Homo sapiens: one gene and its partners. Changing the gene in region 1 together with any one later gene gives a genetic interaction. Each region holds a gene or a part of one and is shown in the gene's direction. Other genes may lie near its edges.

What was found. A genetic interaction does not mean that the proteins touch.
Region 2: changes in ARL5A (region 1) and TBL1XR1 together harm fitness more than expected from each alone (negative genetic interaction), as found in Homo sapiens cells (one large-scale study listed by BioGRID).
Region 3: changes in ARL5A (region 1) and SEC23IP together harm fitness more than expected from each alone (negative genetic interaction), as found in Homo sapiens cells (one large-scale study listed by BioGRID).
Region 4: changes in ARL5A (region 1) and TRAPPC13 together harm fitness more than expected from each alone (negative genetic interaction), as found in Homo sapiens cells (one large-scale study listed by BioGRID).

The regions. Positions count from the first base shown.
Region 1 is NC_000002.12:151,803,738-151,808,985, reverse strand, and holds part of ARL5A (ADP-ribosylation factor-like protein 5A), read left to right. Parts: intron 1-2,013; coding exon 2,014-2,165; intron 2,166-5,248. UniProt on the Homo sapiens protein: Lacks ADP-ribosylation enhancing activity.
Region 2 is NC_000003.12:177,036,720-177,041,308, reverse strand, and holds part of TBL1XR1 (F-box-like/WD repeat-containing protein TBL1XR1), read left to right. Parts: intron 1-2,858; exon of another isoform or gene 2,859-2,874; coding exon 2,875-2,996; intron 2,997-3,136; coding exon 3,137-3,211; intron 3,212-3,564; exon of another isoform or gene 3,565-3,904; intron 3,905-4,589. UniProt on the Homo sapiens protein: F-box-like protein involved in the recruitment of the ubiquitin/19S proteasome complex to nuclear receptor-regulated transcription units. Plays an essential role in transcription activation mediated by nuclear receptors.
Region 3 is NC_000010.11:119,915,904-119,920,492, forward strand, and holds part of SEC23IP (SEC23-interacting protein), read left to right. Parts: intron 1-1,932; coding exon 1,933-2,141; intron 2,142-2,489; coding exon 2,490-2,608; intron 2,609-3,540; coding exon 3,541-3,693; intron 3,694-4,589. UniProt on the Homo sapiens protein: Plays a role in the organization of endoplasmic reticulum exit sites. Specifically binds to phosphatidylinositol 3-phosphate (PI(3)P), phosphatidylinositol 4-phosphate (PI(4)P) and phosphatidylinositol 5-phosphate (PI(5)P).
Region 4 is NC_000005.10:65,655,201-65,659,789, forward strand, and holds part of TRAPPC13 (trafficking protein particle complex subunit 13), read left to right. Parts: intron 1-435; coding exon 436-453; intron 454-3,167; coding exon 3,168-3,301; intron 3,302-4,589.

The DNA.
Region 1 (5,248 bases):
ACCTCCACCTCTTGGGTTCAAGCTATTCTCATCCCTCAGCCTCCCAAGTAGCTGAGAGTACAGGTGTGCACCACTACACCTTGCTGATTTTTATATTTTCAGTTGAAACGGGGTTTCGCCCTGTTGGCCAGGCTGGTTTCAAACTCCTGGCTTCAAGAGATCCACCCACCTCGGCCTTCCAAAGTGCTGGGATTACAGGTGTGAGCCACCACACCTGGCTGATGAATGGTTTCATTTTCTGTTTAGGAGAAAAGAAAAAATATTTACTGTATATCCTTGATAATGACTATATGTATACAAGTTATACTTTATCTCTTCAAGTTTTTTGCCTTTGATATAGGCAGGTGAACTGAAATATAGGTGAAACTAGTTGAACATGAAATCTTAAAATTGCAAACATTGTAGCAGTATTCCTTTCTGACCATACTTAATGAGATAACTATATAAACTGTGGTAGCATTAATAGCTGCCATCCTGCAGAGGGCACTGTAATTAAAGTCAGTCTTGATTGTTATATAAATATTTTACATAACTCCTTTAACCAAATAAGAAATACAAATATACTACTAATGTTTTTATTTGCATCAGAAAGAATCATCAAAACTGTATTCTAACAAAAGTCATTTTGTATCTGCTGAAGATTTTATTTATTCAAACACATACATTATTGAAACCAAAATATCTCAGTAAAATCCCTAAGAAGACAAATGCCATTCAACAGTTGTGAAAACTTGCAAGTGTGGCACCAAAACCTTAATTTTATATCTCTTAATATGTAACAGGCAGAATTTTATGAGGGTTTCACTTGCTAATTGAGTACATCCTTCATGGATTCTTGGCCCAGTATCCATGTAGGGAATTTAGGCTATTTATTAACACCCTCAAATTGTACATAAACTTAAAAAAATTTTGTGTATATGCATATGTGTGTTTTGGGGGGAAAGATCTGTGATTTTGAACAGATTATCAAGGAAGTCCCTGGCTTTAAAACTGGCAGGTAGAGAGGAGTGGGGCAGGAAGAGACTAAGAACTTTTGGCCTGTTTAGTGAGTAAAACATTATACCAGTTATTTGGAGTGTGCACAATTACATTCGGAAAAGGGTTAATGCAGTAGGTGTCTTGCTCAGATCAGATACTCAGTAAAAGATATGAGGAACAAATTCAGAAAGCTTAAAGAACTTGCCTCTGAGTCATAGCATTGAAGTGATAGAACTTCTAATTGGGGAAACTTGATAAGTTTAATGCCACTCCAAGATGGCTGTATTACATATTCAAATCTAAGAAATCTTCATATACAATGACAGAAATTAGGGTGAATAGGATTGGTTTAGGATAGAACTTCAACTGAGAATTAAGCCCTAAGGTTTTAAGGCATACATTGTAATGAATTCATTTATTTCCTATGCAGCTAGAAGGTACTAGCTGTGTACATTATTGGGAGATTTGCAATGTAGTCACTCATCGTTTTCTTTGGAGCTTAATTCTCTTGTGGAATCCTGATTGGGAAAGGCTGGTTTAGGAGGTTGGAGGGAAGGAAATACATGCAAGAGAAATGATTTGAACAACATAGAGATGGCAGTGCCCAAAACTGTTTAGAGAGCAGTAGGATAGGTTGCTAATTACAGCAGAGTACTTATATAGGAGTGATGTGAGGTAAAGCAGAAAAGTATAGGCAAGATAAAATTTTGGAGAGCTCTCAAGTATTAGGCTAAAAGGTAGTTCTTAGCCATTTAAGCCTAATTTTGGATTTAGGGGGTGGGTGGTGTATATACTGGGAAACATGACTGTTAAATACAGCACTTAGGACCATAAAAAATTGTTGTCTGAGACTATAAGAAATATGTAAACACATACAAGTATAAAAAATGTGTTATCAGCCTAGGCACTGAGATGCTTTTATGTCACATAGTTGAGAAATTCTTGTTTACTAAGATTGTGAAAAAGATTCTGTTAATGAAGTTGAAAAATATGTGGAAAATGTATTGGCCTTTACAGTTTTATTTGCTTTAATAGGACCTAAGAAAAGCTGGATTGCTGATTTTTGCTAATAAACAAGATGTTAAAGAATGCATGACTGTAGCAGAAATCTCCCAGTTTTTGAAGCTAACTTCTATTAAAGATCACCAGTGGCATATCCAGGCATGCTGTGCTCTAACTGGCGAGGGGTAAGACATCTTCCTCTTAAATGTTATCGAACATTTATTTTGCTTAGTAACATGTATATCTTCTTTAAACTCCTAAATATTTAAGGCTATTGTGTATAAAACATCGTAAGGGACAGACGTAAGCTGTAGTTCATGTCTATAATCAGAGACTTTTTAGGGTGGTTCTGTAAATAGTAAAACAATATAAACATAATACACATAAACCTACTGAACATGGAAGCATGTAGCTGTTATAATTGCTATAGGAGCTCAGAGAAATGGGAGTATCAGTGAGAGCTGGAGAAGTTAGGAAATACATTTTACGATGATAGTGGAACTGAAGACCTGACATGTGCCGAGCATGTCCTATGTCTGGAGTGTTTTCCATATAGTGCTTCATTTAATCCCCATAACAGTCCTACAGAGTAATTGTTTTTAAGTGATATTTTCTGCATAAAGAAGCTCAAATCAAAGAGAATTCATGTCTGAGACTACTTTGGGTTTATTTACTGTTGGAACTGATGCACTTAAACAAAAGAAGGATTGGGGGAATTGGAGAGAGTGTAGCAATGATGGTCCTTGGTTCTGGAATGATAGATGTTGGAAGAGAAGTGTGTGCCTATAGTAGAAGTTTGCCCTGTCTAGCACCCAGAGATGAAAGTATTTCAAGAAGGAAGTGGTGTGGTCAGCATTGTCAAATCTAAGGTCAAGGACCAGGAAGATGGAGAGGATGCCATTCAATTAACAACAAATGAGTACATTCAACCAGTTTGTCAGAACAAATTCTGTGCATTGAGAAAGTGGGCATGAGGTAAGTGTAGTTTAAAGAGGAGGTAGATTTTAGGAAGCAAAAATAGCTTTGTAAACTCTAGAGTGTGGCAAGAAGAGGAAGGAAAGATAAAATAGAGGAGGTTGGAAATAGGATAAAAAGCTAAAAGGAGGACCAAACTAAAGTACAATTTTTGTTGCTGTTTTTCCAAAATATGGTGCATCTGTATATATAGTCATGCACCCTATAATGATGTTTTGGTCAGTGATAGACCACATATATGACAGTGGTCCTATAAAATTAAAATACTATATGTTTACAATAACTGTTCTATTTTTAGATATGTTTCAGTACAAAAGTTCTTACTATTGGGTTATGGTTACCTACAGAATTTAGTACAGTAACATGCTGTATAGGTGTGTAGCCTGGGAGCAACAGGTTGTATGGCACAGAGCCTAGGTGCATACTAGGCTATACCATCTAGGTTTGTGTAAGTACACTCTGATGTTCACACAATGATGAAATCACCTGACACATTTCTCAGAATGTATCCCTGTCATTAAATGATGCATGATTGCATTTAAAAGCAGAGGAAAAGAGAAATAAGCGGTGAATTCTAAATAGAAGTCTTAAGTTTGGGGTTGAGGTTCTTGAGGTGTTAGGAAAGGACAAAAGCATGGGGTATAGATGAATTAGCTGAAGTGGGAGAAATTGTTTTCCTTTCAAGACCACGATGAAGGGTGAACCAAATATAACGAATTATTGAAGGCAAATCTTAATAGAAGGCACTGTTACTGACATTTGGAAGAGCATAATTAGAACCTTAAAAAAGGTTTTTTAATTAAAAAAAAACTGTTCATTAAAAAAATCACAGATAATACCAATTATCCATGTATTCATTTAAGTAAAAATATGTTAAGTATTTCTTTGTCAAATAGTCTAATATATATATCTTTGTCAAGCAAAAGCATGGATTTATAATATTTGTCAATAAAGACACGTCATCTAGGATTGACATAAGATTTAATTTATATACTTTGATAATTGTATGGAAAATGTATCATTAGTATAGATATTAACTCAATTTCATTTTAAAAAGAGGTAAAGCAATTTTGTTTTAAAAATAGGAAAATAATAGATGAGTTTGGTTTTGAGAGAAATGTTCTGTTTTTCTTTTATAGTTCAGCTACCTTGATCTAAATTATTGGTTTTAGTATTGATTAGCGTTTTGATTCAGTGGATTGGAGATCACAAACTTCAGTGTGTGGCTTCATTTGACTCCTACTTTTCCCATTTGCTAACATTGCCAACCCTGGGTTTCCTCTGTAACATTGGAAGGATTCTGATCTCAGTGTTGTAAAGATTAATTAAGAGAATGGATATTAAGTTAGTTTCTAGTTTGCTATTAGGTAACTACTGTTCATTTATCAGTTTGGAGTTAAACAATCTCTTCATCTATTATTTTTGTGTACTGTTTCCTATCAGTAGTTTAAAAGTAATGAATCTAGTCACAGGAGAAAAGTATGGGACAACCACCCCAAAACAACCATTTATTTACCTCATTGCCATCTTTTTTCTATTTGTGTCTTCTTTTACGTTATTAGACTCATACTTAACAAAACTCTGAATTGAAAAAAATTTAATATTGTAACATAGTTTTTTATGTCTGCAAAAGCTTGTCATAGATAATAGTTAATACTTATAACAGTTCTTCATTTTATTGCAACTTAATGTGTACAACCATTTCTCTCTTGCTCAACTTTTAGTTTCTTTTCCCACAGTGAACATCGTTTTCTATATTTTGGGTTATGTTCAATTACCAGTTGTTCAGTGATAACTGATGTTACTGATAAGAAATTTTATTGCCTTCAAAAGTTTTACATACTTACATTTTATAATATTTATGTAACATGTGTATACTTTGTTTTAATAACTACAATATATATTTTGTTGAATATCCTGCCATTTTTCATTTATATCATGAGCATTTTATCCTATTATAAAATGGTTTTATTTCCTCCATTTCCTGGTGATGAGAATTATGAAATCATTTTTTAAAGGAAAATTTTAAATATTTCATCATACAAATGTCTTGTAATTTATTTTTTTCTGTATTTTTAGACAAAAATTATTTTCCTATTAAAAGTACTTTAATGAACAGTTTTGTATGTAAGTCTATGTTTATGTCTGATTTTCTTTTTTGGGATACATTTCTAGAAGTAGAAAAAAGGATGCAGAGTATTGATATTTTAAATATTTTTGATACGTATTGCCAGATATATTTTTGACATATGTTGCTTTCTGTGGGCACTCATTGCATAATTATAAAGCTTTT
Region 2 (4,589 bases), on another chromosome or scaffold:
CCTCCCTCCTTCCCAAAAACATACACAACACCAGCTTGGATACAGAGCAGCAGAGCAAGGCAGTTCTGTGAAGTTTGTCCCTGGCAGCCCTTAGCAGTGAAGCACTCAGCTGGGAATTGGACACAGCACAGGCAAAAAGGCTTATGGGCAGGAAGAGCAAACACCAGCTAAAGCAGTGCTGCTTCATGACTAGAATAAAAATACAGCCTGCAACTTACTCAGCCTGACAACTCTGAGGTGTGATTTTTGACTATGTTTACTTTGTTGGGAATTCTCATAATTTGAAATTTTGTATAAAAGGTGAATTTATGTTAATAATTTTATATGGCACTTTGTTAAAAGGTTGATTGAGGGAGGATTAAATATTTTAAAAATATAGTTATTTGAAATTTCATGTAACCTCCATAGTAAGTTCCCATTAAATCTTTTCTTTCCAGTCTGTTTCCTTTATGAGCTTACTCTATCCAAGTGGTGTCCTGATACCTAGTTTTTCATTGTAGAAATATACCCAAAACTAATTATTTTAATGTCTGGTCATATTACTACAATTCGCTTCTTTGTTCTTTAGTACTTAGTACTTTTAGATTTGGGGCTTACCTGATTTGTCTTTAGCCAGGCAGTGAAATCAATTTCACTCTTTCCTGTTGTACTTTATCTTTTAAAAAAAAAAAATCTCAGTATAGTTCTGATTAAAATTTCCTTTCTGAGTCCTAAATGCTTTAAATCTTCTTTTCCCATTCTTTTTACTTCTCCTATCCATAGTTACAAGTTCTTACGCATGACATATCTCTTGGCTGATAAGTTTAACTGCTTAAGCACCTGTTTATGTTTCATTTTTAACATAGCCAGTTACTATTATGCTTGGATATACACAATGAGGGAGTTTGTGGCTTTGTTTTCCCTTTCCACAGACGTCTCTAATCTCCTTTATTAAATGCTTTGTATTTCTACTAATTAGTATACATAGCTAAACTTTTTGTTTTTGTTTTTTGAGACATAGTAGTCTTACTCTGTTGCCCAGACTGGAGTGCAGTGGTGCAATCACGGCTCACTGCAGCCTCGGCCTCCCCAGCTCAAGCAGTCCTCCTGCCTCAGCCTTCCAAGTAGCTGGGACTATAGGCATGGACCACTACACCTGGCTAATTTTTTATTTTTTAGAAATGAGGTCCCACTGTCTTGCCCAGGCTGGTCTCAAACACCTGGGCTCAAACAGTTCTCCTGCCTTTGCTACCAAAGCGCTGAGTCACACCTGGCCACACAGCTCAACTTTAACTCTCCTGTTTTTCCCCTTTAAGTTTTTTCTTTAAATTAGGGTTGACAAACTTTCACTAAAGGACTTGAAAGTATTTTAGACATTGTAGGCCATAAGATCTCAGTTGCCACTAATCAGCTCTGCCCTTGTAGTGAAAAAGCAGCCATAGGTAATATGCAACTTCATGCATTTGTCTGGGTTTCAATAAAACTCTTATTTATGGACACTGAACTTTAAATCTCATTTTTCCACATTTGTATGTCTTCCTTTGATCCCCTCCTCCCCCATTGCACTATAAAAGCCATTCTTGGCTTATGTGCCATAGTTTGTCAACCCCTGCTTTAAATGCAGTCTTTGATATGCTTCTGTTGCCTAACCCAGTTACTCACTATTATTACCATAATCTGTGTTGCTAATTACGGAGATCTTTTGCACCTTGCAGCAGGAGACAAGGATGTTCAATAATTTCAGAGCTAAACTCAAAGTATTAAATGCCAGCCTGCTTTGGGGCTTCAGAGATTTTTAAATTCATTGATTTTAAGGGGCATTTGATTTTAAGAGGTGTTTGACAAGAACAGATTTTAAGAGGTATTTGGCAAAAGTTGCTTAGAAGAAAATTATTTGCAAATCATATGCCGTATTCCATTTGTTAGTTGAGTAGATGATAATGGGAATGATACTTATTCAGCATAACATTTGTCTAACTCTTGTAATTGACAGAGTACTTCCACACACATGATCTCACCTGGTCTTCACCATGTGTACTAAGGATAAAGATAGTACAAGTTTAGTATCCCTTATCTAAGTGTTTGGGACCAGGATTGTGTTGCATTTTTTATTTTTATTTTTTTTCTGATTTCGGAATATTTGCATATACATAAGGCAATATCATGGGGATGGGACCCAAGTCTGAACATGAAATTAATTTATGTTTTACATATACCTTATAATATAGCCAGATGGCATCATTATACAGTATTTTTACTAGTTTTGTGCATGAAGTAAAGTTTGTATTAAGCATTTAATGTGTGGAATTTTCCACTTGTGGCATCATATTAGCATTCAAAAAGTTGCAGATTTTGGAGCATTGTGGATTTTGGATTTTCAGATTGGGGTGCTCAACTTGTGTGTTATCCTCACTCTTGTGTGTGAGGGTAACACTTGCATGTTACCCTTATCTAAAGAGGATATATCATAGAGGTTAAGTGACTTGCTTGTGTCCACTAATTATGCAGTGACAGAACCGAGGCTTCTTGTCCATTGAACACTCACAGATTTTAGAAATGAAAAGCATGATATCATCACATTTAATTTTATCATTTTATAAAAGAGAACCCAAGACCCACAGAGCCAGCTCTCAGGAACCTTCATCTCCCAGTTACTAGGCCAGTGTACTTTCTCTTAGGGTCTGTCTCACCTAGAAATAACTAAATTGAAATTTGTTAATATTGTTGTATATAGATACTTTTATTTTAATTTTTTCTTAATATCTTAAAAAGTATAAAGTAAAATGTTTAAGTGCCTGTTAGTATATTTTATTAGTCAACAATGGTTCAAAGCTAAAACTCTTGGATTTTAGTACATGTGGAATAAAAGCAAATCTAACCTTTGTTCCTTTGCAGCACCAGCATTGGATGTTGATTGGCAGAGCAACAACACCTTTGCTTCTTGTAGTACAGATATGTGCATTCATGTCTGTAAATTAGGACAAGACAGACCTATTAAAACATTCCAAGGACATACGGTAAGAAACCTTTTTTCCACATTAAAGTGGTCATGATTAACAAGTAATGTTTCAGAATAGTTTTAAAGTATGTATGTTTAATATTCAAGTAGCTACCCAGTCTATACAATGAAAATGTGAATATTTACTATTATTTTTAGAATGAAGTAAATGCTATCAAATGGGACCCAACTGGCAATCTCTTGGCCTCCTGTTCTGACGACATGACTTTAAAGGTAATTTGCTTAGTAGGGAGAAATGGGTTGGCGGTGTCACACAGTATGGTTGCTCTGGCCATTTTAAGACCATTTAGAATGTCTGTCTTACATGGAGTGTTTGTACCTGCATGAAAACTCCAACATTTTAAATGGCTAACCATTGTTTTTTAAATTTTATAGTTTCTTTTCTGAAATACATAAAACTATTTGAATGTAGCAAATTATATTAAAATGATGGCTTGTGATACAATGAGACATATGATACCCTATTAGTTAGGGCTCTCCAGAGAAACAGAACCAATAAGAAGATGGATGGATGGATGGATGGATGGATGGATGGATGAGAGATTTACTGTGAGAAATTGACTCACGTGATTATAGAGGCTGAGAAGTCCCACAGTCTGCTGTCTACAAGCTGGAGACCCATGAAAGATGGAGGTGTGGTTCCATTCCAGGGCCAGAGAAGGAGTGCCAATGGTGTAAGTCCCAGTCCAAGAGCAGAAGACCAATATACCAACTCAGCAGTCAGGCTGAGGCAGAGAATTCTTGCTTCCTTGGCGGTTTTGTTCTGTTTAGAGCCTCACTGGACTGAGTGATGCCCCCCCCGCCGCCCATTGGGGAGGGTGGCAGTCTGCTTTTCTCAGTCAGCTAAGTTAAATGCCTGTCTCAACTGGGAACACCCTCAGACACAGCCGGAAATAATGTCTCACCAAATATCTGTACCCTGTGACTCAGTCAAGAAGACAGATAAAATTAGACATCACCAATAGTAAGAAAGGTCATGCTATAAATTGTCTTCACCATTAGAAAGTCATATGTTGAGGCAATTAAAGTTTATTTGCAATTAAAGTTTATTTGCATATGTAAAGATTTGACTTAATAAGTACTCAAAATCTTTGTAGCATTCATGGATTTGATTGGAATTCTTTGCGTTGTATTAATTTGATTTTGCTGTGGTATGACTATGTATCACCATTGCTGGGAAACTGATACATAGCAGAGAATCTCTCAGTGAGCGAGCCTAGTTGACATACCAACATCCACATCTCAACATGGATCTCTGTTTTTCTTGTTGTATGACTAAAAGCAAAACTGCTGTCTCGCACCTAAGCACACCAGATTCCTCATTTGGGGAAAAAAGCATTTGGAGATAAAGAACAACGTAATACTTATTTCCAAAATAAATGAAGCTTTGAGCCCTCTCCTGCAACAGCTAACCCTCTACTGAAAACAGTTTTATCCTTGACTTTGCAGTACCAAGGACTGCAGATGTGATGACCGTTACAGATATGAAAATCATGAGGGAAAACTGATTTTCCTGCTACTATGAACAGATTAAATTTAACTTTGCGAAACTTGTGAGGTTTTCTCCTTTAAGTATCTGCTATGTTTTTAG
Region 3 (4,589 bases), on another chromosome or scaffold:
ATAACTTGTTTTTCAGATTAGTCATATTTAAATTTAAGATTTAAACCGTAATATGAAATAGTTTATTGTAGCTTCAATCAATATGTTTTTAAAAATTGTATACTTCTGACATATAATTAAATATTGGCTGTAAAGTTTACACACTACTTTTCTCTCTGTGTGTGTGCATTCCTTTTGTAAATATTTAAGAGAATCTTAAGAAATTTTAGCTGGTTTTAAAATACAATTTTAATCTGTAGCAGTTTAGACAGGGGGCTGTCCTTTATGTAGTAGGATGCCTAATGGGCTTTCCACCCCAACAAAAATGTCTCCAGAAATTGCCAGATGTCCCCTGGAGGGTAAAAATCACCCCTGGCTGAGAACCACAGATTCAGAATATTGTTTCTCAGTGGAGATGCTCTTGTCAGGACAATTCTTTGCTGTCGCAGTGCAGACCACTTAACTTCCTTAGTGTAAAGGCCACTCAGTACTAGCAGTGCTCACCAGGCACTGTGACAATTAAAAATACTCTGCTCAATTTTGAATGCTCCCAATTGAGAATCATAAATACAGGTAATAGTTATGCTGGCACATGTCTAGATTTTAGTGAACACCGTAATGTTTCAGGGTACATAGTTTAATAAAACTATTTCTACAAACAGCGTTTTGTCTATGTTAGGCCCTATTGTAAGGGTGTTTTCTTTCTCTGTGTGTATTCCTAAACTTCATTTTGGTCATTCTCAAATTAGGGAAGATTTTTCATTCCATGTAGCCCTGTTTTTTCTGTTTGATATTCTCTTTAGTCCTTTTGACCCACAAGTTTTGTCAGGTGTCCAGATTTGCAGTTAACTGGAAGAAAAATGGAAGAGTAATCTTCCCTCTTTAAAAATAAAATAGAAATCTTTGCATATGACTTATATAGCAACTAACTCTTCAGAGAATCCCAAAATTCATAGTATAGTTATAGGCACAAATAACTTTAAAAAAAAAACTGAATTGTTTTTGAGACAGCATCTCACTGTCACCCAGGCTCTGGAGTGCGCTGGCATGATCATGGCTCACTGTAGACTTGGCCTCCTGGGCTCAAGTGATCCTCCCACCTCAGTCTCCCAAGTAGCTGGGACTATAGGTGCAAGCCGCCATGCCTGGCTAATTTTTAAATTTTCTGTAGAGATGGGGTCTCACTGTGTTGCTCAAGCTGGTCTTGATCTCCCGGGCTCAAGCGGTCCTCCTGCCCTAGCCTCTCAAAGTGCTAGGATCACAGGCATGAGCCACCACATGTGGCAGCACAAATTTTTTTGGTTTACCTTTATTTATACTTTTAATTTTTTTTTTGATGTGGAGTCTCGCTCTGTCACCCAGGCTGGAGTGTGGTGGCACAATCTCGGCTCACTGCAACCTCCACCTCCTGGGTTCAAGCGATTCTCATGCCTCAACCTCCCAAATAGCTGGGTGTACAGGTGTGTGCCATGACTTGTGGCTAACTTTTGATTTAAATTTTTTTTTTTTTTTTTGAGGTGGAATCTTGCTCTGTCGCCCAGACTGGAATGCAGTGGTGCAGTCTCAGCTCACTGCAACCTCTGCCTTTCAGGTTCAAGCAGTTCTCCTGCCTCACCCTCCTGAGTAGCTGGGATTACAGGTGTACACCACCACACTCGGCTAATTTGTGTATTTTTAGTAAAGACGGGGTTTCGCCATGTTGGCCTGGTTGGTCTTGAACTCCTGACCTCAAGTGATCCACCCACTTCAGCCTCCCAAAGTGCTGGGATTACAGGTGTGAGCCACCGCATCTGGCCTATCTTGATTTATTTATAATGACTATCTACAGAAACAACTCATAGTCTGTGGGGTTTTCTTAGTGTATTTTCAGGAGTCAAAAATCTAAACTTTAAAAAAATCTGTAAATTTAAGGTAGATGCTGACTGAATGTGCTGTATTTTTCTTTTTAAACAGGAATATTAAGAAAATCACTTTGCCAAGTATTGGTCGATTTCGTCACTTTACCAATGAAACTTTGCTAGATATTTTATTTTATAACAGCCCCACCTACTGTCAGACAATTGTGGAAAAAGTAGGAATGGAGATAAACCATCTGCATGCACTCTTTATGAGTCGGAACCCAGACTTCAAAGGAGGTGTCTCTGTTGCTGGTCACAGTTTAGGTAAAACTGTCAAATATTCACATTTTAAATACAATTTTTGTTGAGTCATAACTGCTTTCAGTGTAGGTGATATTGTTAGTGCAAAATTAAGAATTACAGATTTTAAGTTTCAGAAAAGGTAGAAATGAATGCTCTGAGTTTAGATTCTGCCTTTTCTATATTCACCTCTAGTATTACCTAGGGAATGCTATGTATTTTACTTTATTCTGCTGTTTGATAAAATAATTAATTATCAGGTCTTGAATAACATGTAACTTCTGTATGACTTTTGACTATAGACAGTGAAAAAAGAATTAGTGTTATAAAAGTACCTACTACATTATAAGGCAAAATGTTTCTTTTTCATAGGTTCTTTAATATTGTTTGACATCCTGTCTAATCAAAAAGATTTGAATTTATCAAAGTGCCCTGGACCTCTTGCTGTTGCTAATGGAGTTGTGAAGCAGCTACATTTTCAGGAAAAGCAGGTACGTCTGTACGTGGCCAATTAACATTTCGATTTAGAGTCTATGGAGCTGAACAATTTTCAAAAGTCTGAACTGTTTCTTGAAACTTTTGTTTGTTTGTTTGTTTGTTTGTTTGTTTTAACTGAGCCTCATTGGTTGCTTGGGCTAGTCTTGAGTTCCCTCCTGGCCTCAAGCGATCCTCCTGCCTTGGCTTCCCAAAGTGCTGGCATCAATAACTCTTCAGAGAATCCCCAAATTCAGAGTACAGTTATAGGCCCAAATATAATAGCTTCCGTGTCCAGCCCTGAAACTGGTTTTACATATTAAAGTACACCGAGGTTTAGAAATGGAATGGAATCATATAGCTCATTATTTGAGTTTCTCACTCTTCTTCTTTATGGGTTATAAATTTAAATGTGAAAGTTTGTGATTTTTAAAAATGTAAATTATAGGAAATGGAGACTTGAGTGATTTATTAAATTTATATACTTTTCAGAATATTCAATTTTTTTTTTTTTTTGAGGCGGAGTTTCACTTTTGTCACCCAGGTTAGAGTGCAATGGTGTGATCTCGGCTCACTGCAACCTCCGCCTTTCGGTTTCAAGCGATTCTCCTGCCTCAGCCTCCCGAGTAGTTGGGATTACAGGCGCCTGCCACCAAGCTGAGCTAATTTTTGTGTTTTTAGTAGAGACAGGGTTTCATCATGTTGGCCAGGCTGGTCTTCAACTCCTGACCTCAGGTGATGCACCTGCCTCAGCCTCCCAAAGTGCTGGGATTACAGGCGTGAGCCACTGGGCCTGGCCAGAATATTCAAACTTTGAATGGCAAAGTACTGTGCCTAAAATTATGATTTCTGTGTAAAGCAAAATTGTTTGAGAGTTTTCGTAGATCAGCAGTCATTATATGGGAGTTTTTCTGAGCTTGTAATGTTTTTCATACTTTTTTTTTTAAAGATGCCTGAAGAGCCAAAGCTGACTTTGGATGAGTCGTATGACCTTGTTGTTGAAAATAAAGAAGTCCTAACTTTGCAAGAAACTCTGGAAGCACTTAGCCTCTCTGAATATTTTAGCACTTTTGAAAAGGAAAAGATTGATATGGAGTCCCTGGTACTGATCATAGTTTGCTTCATTTTGTTTGAAATTGTTTTTCTTGTGTAGATTGAAAATTAAGAATAAACATTTTCGTATCAAAATACACTCCAGAGTAGACAAAGACTGAAATGTTTTAAAAAATTGAAAAACACAGAAGAATATTTTTTTATAATCTGAAAGGCTTTTCTGAGTATGATGCAAAATCCAGAAGCCATCAAAGAAAAAAATTGTATAACAGTAGACACCATAAACAACATCTAAAGGCCAGTGATACATTTGCAACACACATTATAGACAGAGGGCTTACTTCATTGATTTTCAAAGCTTCTACAAATCAGTTACAGAAAGACCATCACATCAGTGTGATATGTAAATAGGCAAAGAATATAAACATGATTTACAGAAAAGGAAATAACAAATGGTGTCTTCGCATATGAAAACTCATAAGAGAAATGGAAATTGAAAGTACAATGGGATTTTTTTTAACTTACCAGTTTGAAAAAATAGGAAGTTTGAAAATATGCTATGTGGCCAGGGTGAAGGGAACTAGGCATTGTTATATATTGTTGGTCAGACTGTAAAATATTACAAACTCTTTGGAAGGCAGTTTGGCAATATCTTTAAGAATATAAAAATTACCCTTTGCTTCATCAGTTTCATTGCCAGGAATATTTCCTATAGAGAAATATTCAAACAAGAATTATCTACAAGGATACTCACAGCAGTGTTTGCAAGGTAACAAAACATTAGAGACACCATTGGTGTTGAGGAGTAGGGTGCTAGTGAAATCATTTATGGTGCATCCGCATAACGGAGTACCCTACAGCTGTTGAATGAATGATGCAGTGTCAGAGATACCCGTCTCTAAGGTACATTTACATGAAGAGAGCAGAGTTCATTACTGTGTGCAT
Region 4 (4,589 bases), on another chromosome or scaffold:
AAAGATGATTCCATTATTACATAAATTTAAGAGAAGGTATACGGTGTATATCTATTCTGAATGTGGAGGATAGTATATATTCATCCTAAATTATCTATGAAGAATTGCAATGTTGGTAAAGAATTATAGAACTAGAAAGTCATGGGGTATACCTCTCTGCTCCAAAATGTGCCCTTAACAGTTTGCTACTGTTGAGTATTCAGCCATAGGGTTCTTCTCTATTCCATTGTCATTTAACCTTAGCAGTTTCACCTTTTTAGAAAAATGGTTTGTCATATTTCTTTATGTTGCTTCCTGTTTACTTTCTTATTTACTAATGCTGTCTTGTTTAGTAATTTAAAAAAATGCAGAAATGCATTTTATTTTAAAGTAATTCTTTTTTCTTTAACATTTAACTCTGATTTTTCTAATTATTCTTTTTTATTTTTCCATTAGAGTGACCTCAGTTCTGTGGTAATTTGATTTTTTATTATAAATTTTTATACTTTTCTTACTCACCACTTTTTGACTCTGCCTAATTAATCTCTCTTTACAAAACATAGTGGAAAAACAGTTAGTTGTGAATACCACCTATGTGACTTCAGAAAGATTATATATAATTTTATGTACTTTTTAATTATATCAATTTTCTATTCCGTGGGGCAAAATTAGCTCAAAAGTTAAATTGTCATACTGAAACAATTCTCATTTTCAGTGTTTCTTCTTTAGATTTTTTTTTTAAAGAGGTATGTTACCTTGTGTCAAATGGCCTTGTGATTTTCATCATCTTACTGTAAAATACCCGATTATCCTAGCCTTCAGTTCTTTGAGTAGACTGTATAATCGAAATTCATTTTCAGATGCACAGTGGTTTTAGTTTTAAGTCTGGGTCAGGTGATGATGGCCGCTTGACAAAATGAAACAGAAGAAAAGCAAATTTTCCCAACTTGGCTAAAATTTTGTTTTCAAAGTTATATTTACAATAAGCAGCATTTGCTTATATCACATTACATATGTAATAACATCAACTGCCTTAGCACTGAATTCTTAATTTTTAAAATATCAAATTGCTTTACACTAACTGTTCAAACTAACTTGATTTTCCATTATGCTGCTTGTTTTTCTTTCGTTTTATCTAAGCTCTTCCTAAATTTATGCAGAAAATTGCAGTTTTTAAATTGAAATGTGGGTCTGTGGTTATTTTTTTAAAAGCAATGGATTGATGGGATATATGTACTTTTTTTTAGAACCAGTAACCAAAAAATGCCATTAAATGATGCATTTTTTTAAACTGATAAATCATTTTATTTCTATTTTCATTTGAACACATGTCCCAAAAACTAAAGAATCTGTTTTATTTTAGATAATAGTACATTATATTATAACTTAATCATTATATTTTTGCAAATGATTTTCATTTTCTTGGTGTTAGTGTTTAAAAAGCTCAGCCAGGCGCGGTGGCTCATGCCTGTAATCTCAGCACTTTGGGAGGCCGAGGCGAGCGGATCACGAGGTCAGGAGTTTGAGACCAGCCTGGCCAACATGGTGAAACCTCATCTCTATAAAAAATACAAAAATTAGCCAGGCATGGTGGCACTTGCCCGTAATCCCAGTTACTTGAGAGGCTGAGGCAGGAGAATCACTTGAACTCAGGAGGCAGAGGTTGCAGTGAGCTGAGATCGCACCACTGCACTCCTGCCTGGGTGACAGAGTGAAACTTCGTCTCAAAATAAATAAAAATACAAAAATTTAGCTGGGCATGGTGGCACTGCCTGTAGTCCCAGCTACTAGGGAGGCTGAGGCAGGAGAATCGCTTGAACCTGGGAGGTGGAGGTTGCAGTGAGAGGAGATCTTGCCACTGCATTCTACTCTGGGCAACAGAGCAAGACTCCATCTTGTGGGGGTTGGGGGAAGCTCATAGGCCAGGCACAGTGGCTCACACCTCTAATCCCAGCACTTTGGGAGGCCGAGGTGGGTGGATCACTTGAGGTCAGGAGTTCTAGACCAGCCTGGCCAACATGGTGAAACCCTGTCTCTACTAAAAATACAAAAATTAGCTCAGTATGATATTGCGCGCCTATAATCCCAGCTACTCGGGAGGCTGAGGCAGGAGAATCCCTTGAACCCGGGAGGCGGAGGTTGCAGTGTACCAAGATCACCCCACCACACTCCAGCCTGGGTGACAGAATGAGACTGTCTCAAAAAAATAAAAAGCTCTTAAGTGGCAAATTTTTCTGGTCATAGTTGATTTTATGTTATTTATGTGTAGTAAACATATTACTATGAAACTTTTGAAAAAAATTATTGAATACCCTTAGTGTATCATTTTTCATGTAGGTTTGTTTCAAAGATAAATCAAGTTAGTCTGTTATCCTTCAATTACATGAAGGAAAATAATAACCAAATAGCATAAAATAATGTTTAGCATAATTAGGGGAATTAATTTATCTAAATTTATCTAATTATCTAATTTATCTAATTATTAAAATTACCTACTGGCAAATATTGCTAAATAGCATCAGCTTTAAAATCTGTCACTGAGGCTACAAAATACCTTTTGCCTGATTTAAAAGCTCTACGATGGTGAAGTATAATCCACATATTCTTTTTTTAGCCCTCAATATACATTTAAAATGAACTAAGAAATCACTAATGACCACTCGCAAATTGCTTTAATTTAAAAAGTTAAATCCTTCAAGATTACAAAATAGATTATTCATAGTATTAGTGGTCACTACACTATCTAAATTGGCATTAATATGACAATCAAAGTTATACTGCCATATTATAATGAAGACTTAATTATCTTAACGTAATACTGAAATTATAGGAGCATAGGTATATTCATCATACTAAAGCACATTTTAATATTTTAATACCTAATGAAAAGAAAGAGTATTTGTAAATGAAATTCCAGTTAAGTATTTTGGGATGTTAAGACAAAATATAGTTATCCTCCATCCATTGTTTGACAAGGTATCAGTTGACTAACACTTGACTTTGCCCCTGTTAATTATGATAGGGTGAAGATTTCTTTTCTTGCATTAATTGTGGTAACTTTGATTTGCAGGCATGAACTAATCACATTTGTGGTTAATATTTTTTCTTCATATAGATAAGATATTTTTGTTGAGATAAATATTTTAAATGCCACCACACCTTGGTGGATATTTTTTTCATATCCTCAGACTGATGAAGTATTTCTGGAAGCCCAGATTCAGAATATGACAACCTCACCTATGTTTATGGAGAAGGTTTCACTGGAGCCATCTATTATGTACAATGTAACAGAATTAAATTCAGTCAGCCAAGCTGGAGAATGGTAAATATTAATTTATGAAGTCTTTATCCTTGTTTTGAAAGATACATGTTTTTCTAAACATCCATTGCTCTTCAGTGGGTTTTTTTTTAATAGACTTTTTTTAAAGAATTTGAGGTTCATAGAAAAATTCATCAGAAAGTAGAGTTTCCACATACCCTCTTCCACTCCTCACAGTTTCTCTTGTTATTTACGTCTTGTTTTTTATTTTATTTTTATTTTTATTTATTTATTTATTTATTTATTTTTTGAAAGAGTCCAGCTCTATGCAGTGGCATGATCTTGATCTAGGCTCACTGTAACCTCCACCTCCCAGGTTCAAGCAATTTTGGTGCATCAGCCTCCCAAGCTGCTGGGATTACAGGTGCATGCCACCACGCTTGGTTAATTTTTTTATTTTTAGTAGAGATGGGGTTTCACCATATTGGCCAGGCTGGTCTTCAGCTCCTGACCTCAAGCGATCTGCCCACCTTATCCTCCCAAAGTGCTGTCCTTACAGGCGTGAGCCACTGTGCCTGGCCTACATCTTGTTTTAATGTGGTACATTTACTACAATTGATGAAATGATATTGACACTGATTACTAACTAATGTCTATAATTTACATTAGAATTCACACTTTTTGTTGTATGTTTTATTGTTTTTGGTTTTTGGTTTGTTTTGTTTTAAGAGACAGGTCTCATTAATGTTGCCCAGGCTGAAGTCAAATTTCTGGACTCAAACGATCTCCCAAGTATCTGGGACTATAGTCAAGCACTGTAGGTTTTGACAAATATATAACATGTATCCACCATTACTATATTATGCAAAATAGTTTCACTTTCCAAAAACTCTCCTGTGCTCCATCTTCATCCCTCCATTACATAAAAATAAAGATCCTAGCCCTTTTAATTTCATGTTTTACTATTCAAAGCATTTGGTCTTTTAAGTCTCATAAAAATCCAGTGAGGTAAATATGAATCCTATCATTGCTATCCTGCAAATAATAAAATGGAGGAATGTGAAGGAATGGTAGAGAAGTTAAAAAGAGTAAGGGTGAATGTGGGTTTAAAAAAAGAAATACTCTCTCAACATCAAAAGAAAAGGACATAGGAATAGATGGTTTAATACTTTGTGAAAAGGAAATACATACACCTTTCCACAGCTAATTTAAAAGAGGAAGAATAAATGTAAAGTTGACAATAATACAGATAAGAAAGTAATAGGCTGGGTGTGGTGGCTCATGCCTGTAATCCTAACCCTTTGGAAGGCTGAGGCCAGAGGATTGCTTGAAGCTATGAGTTCTAGACCAA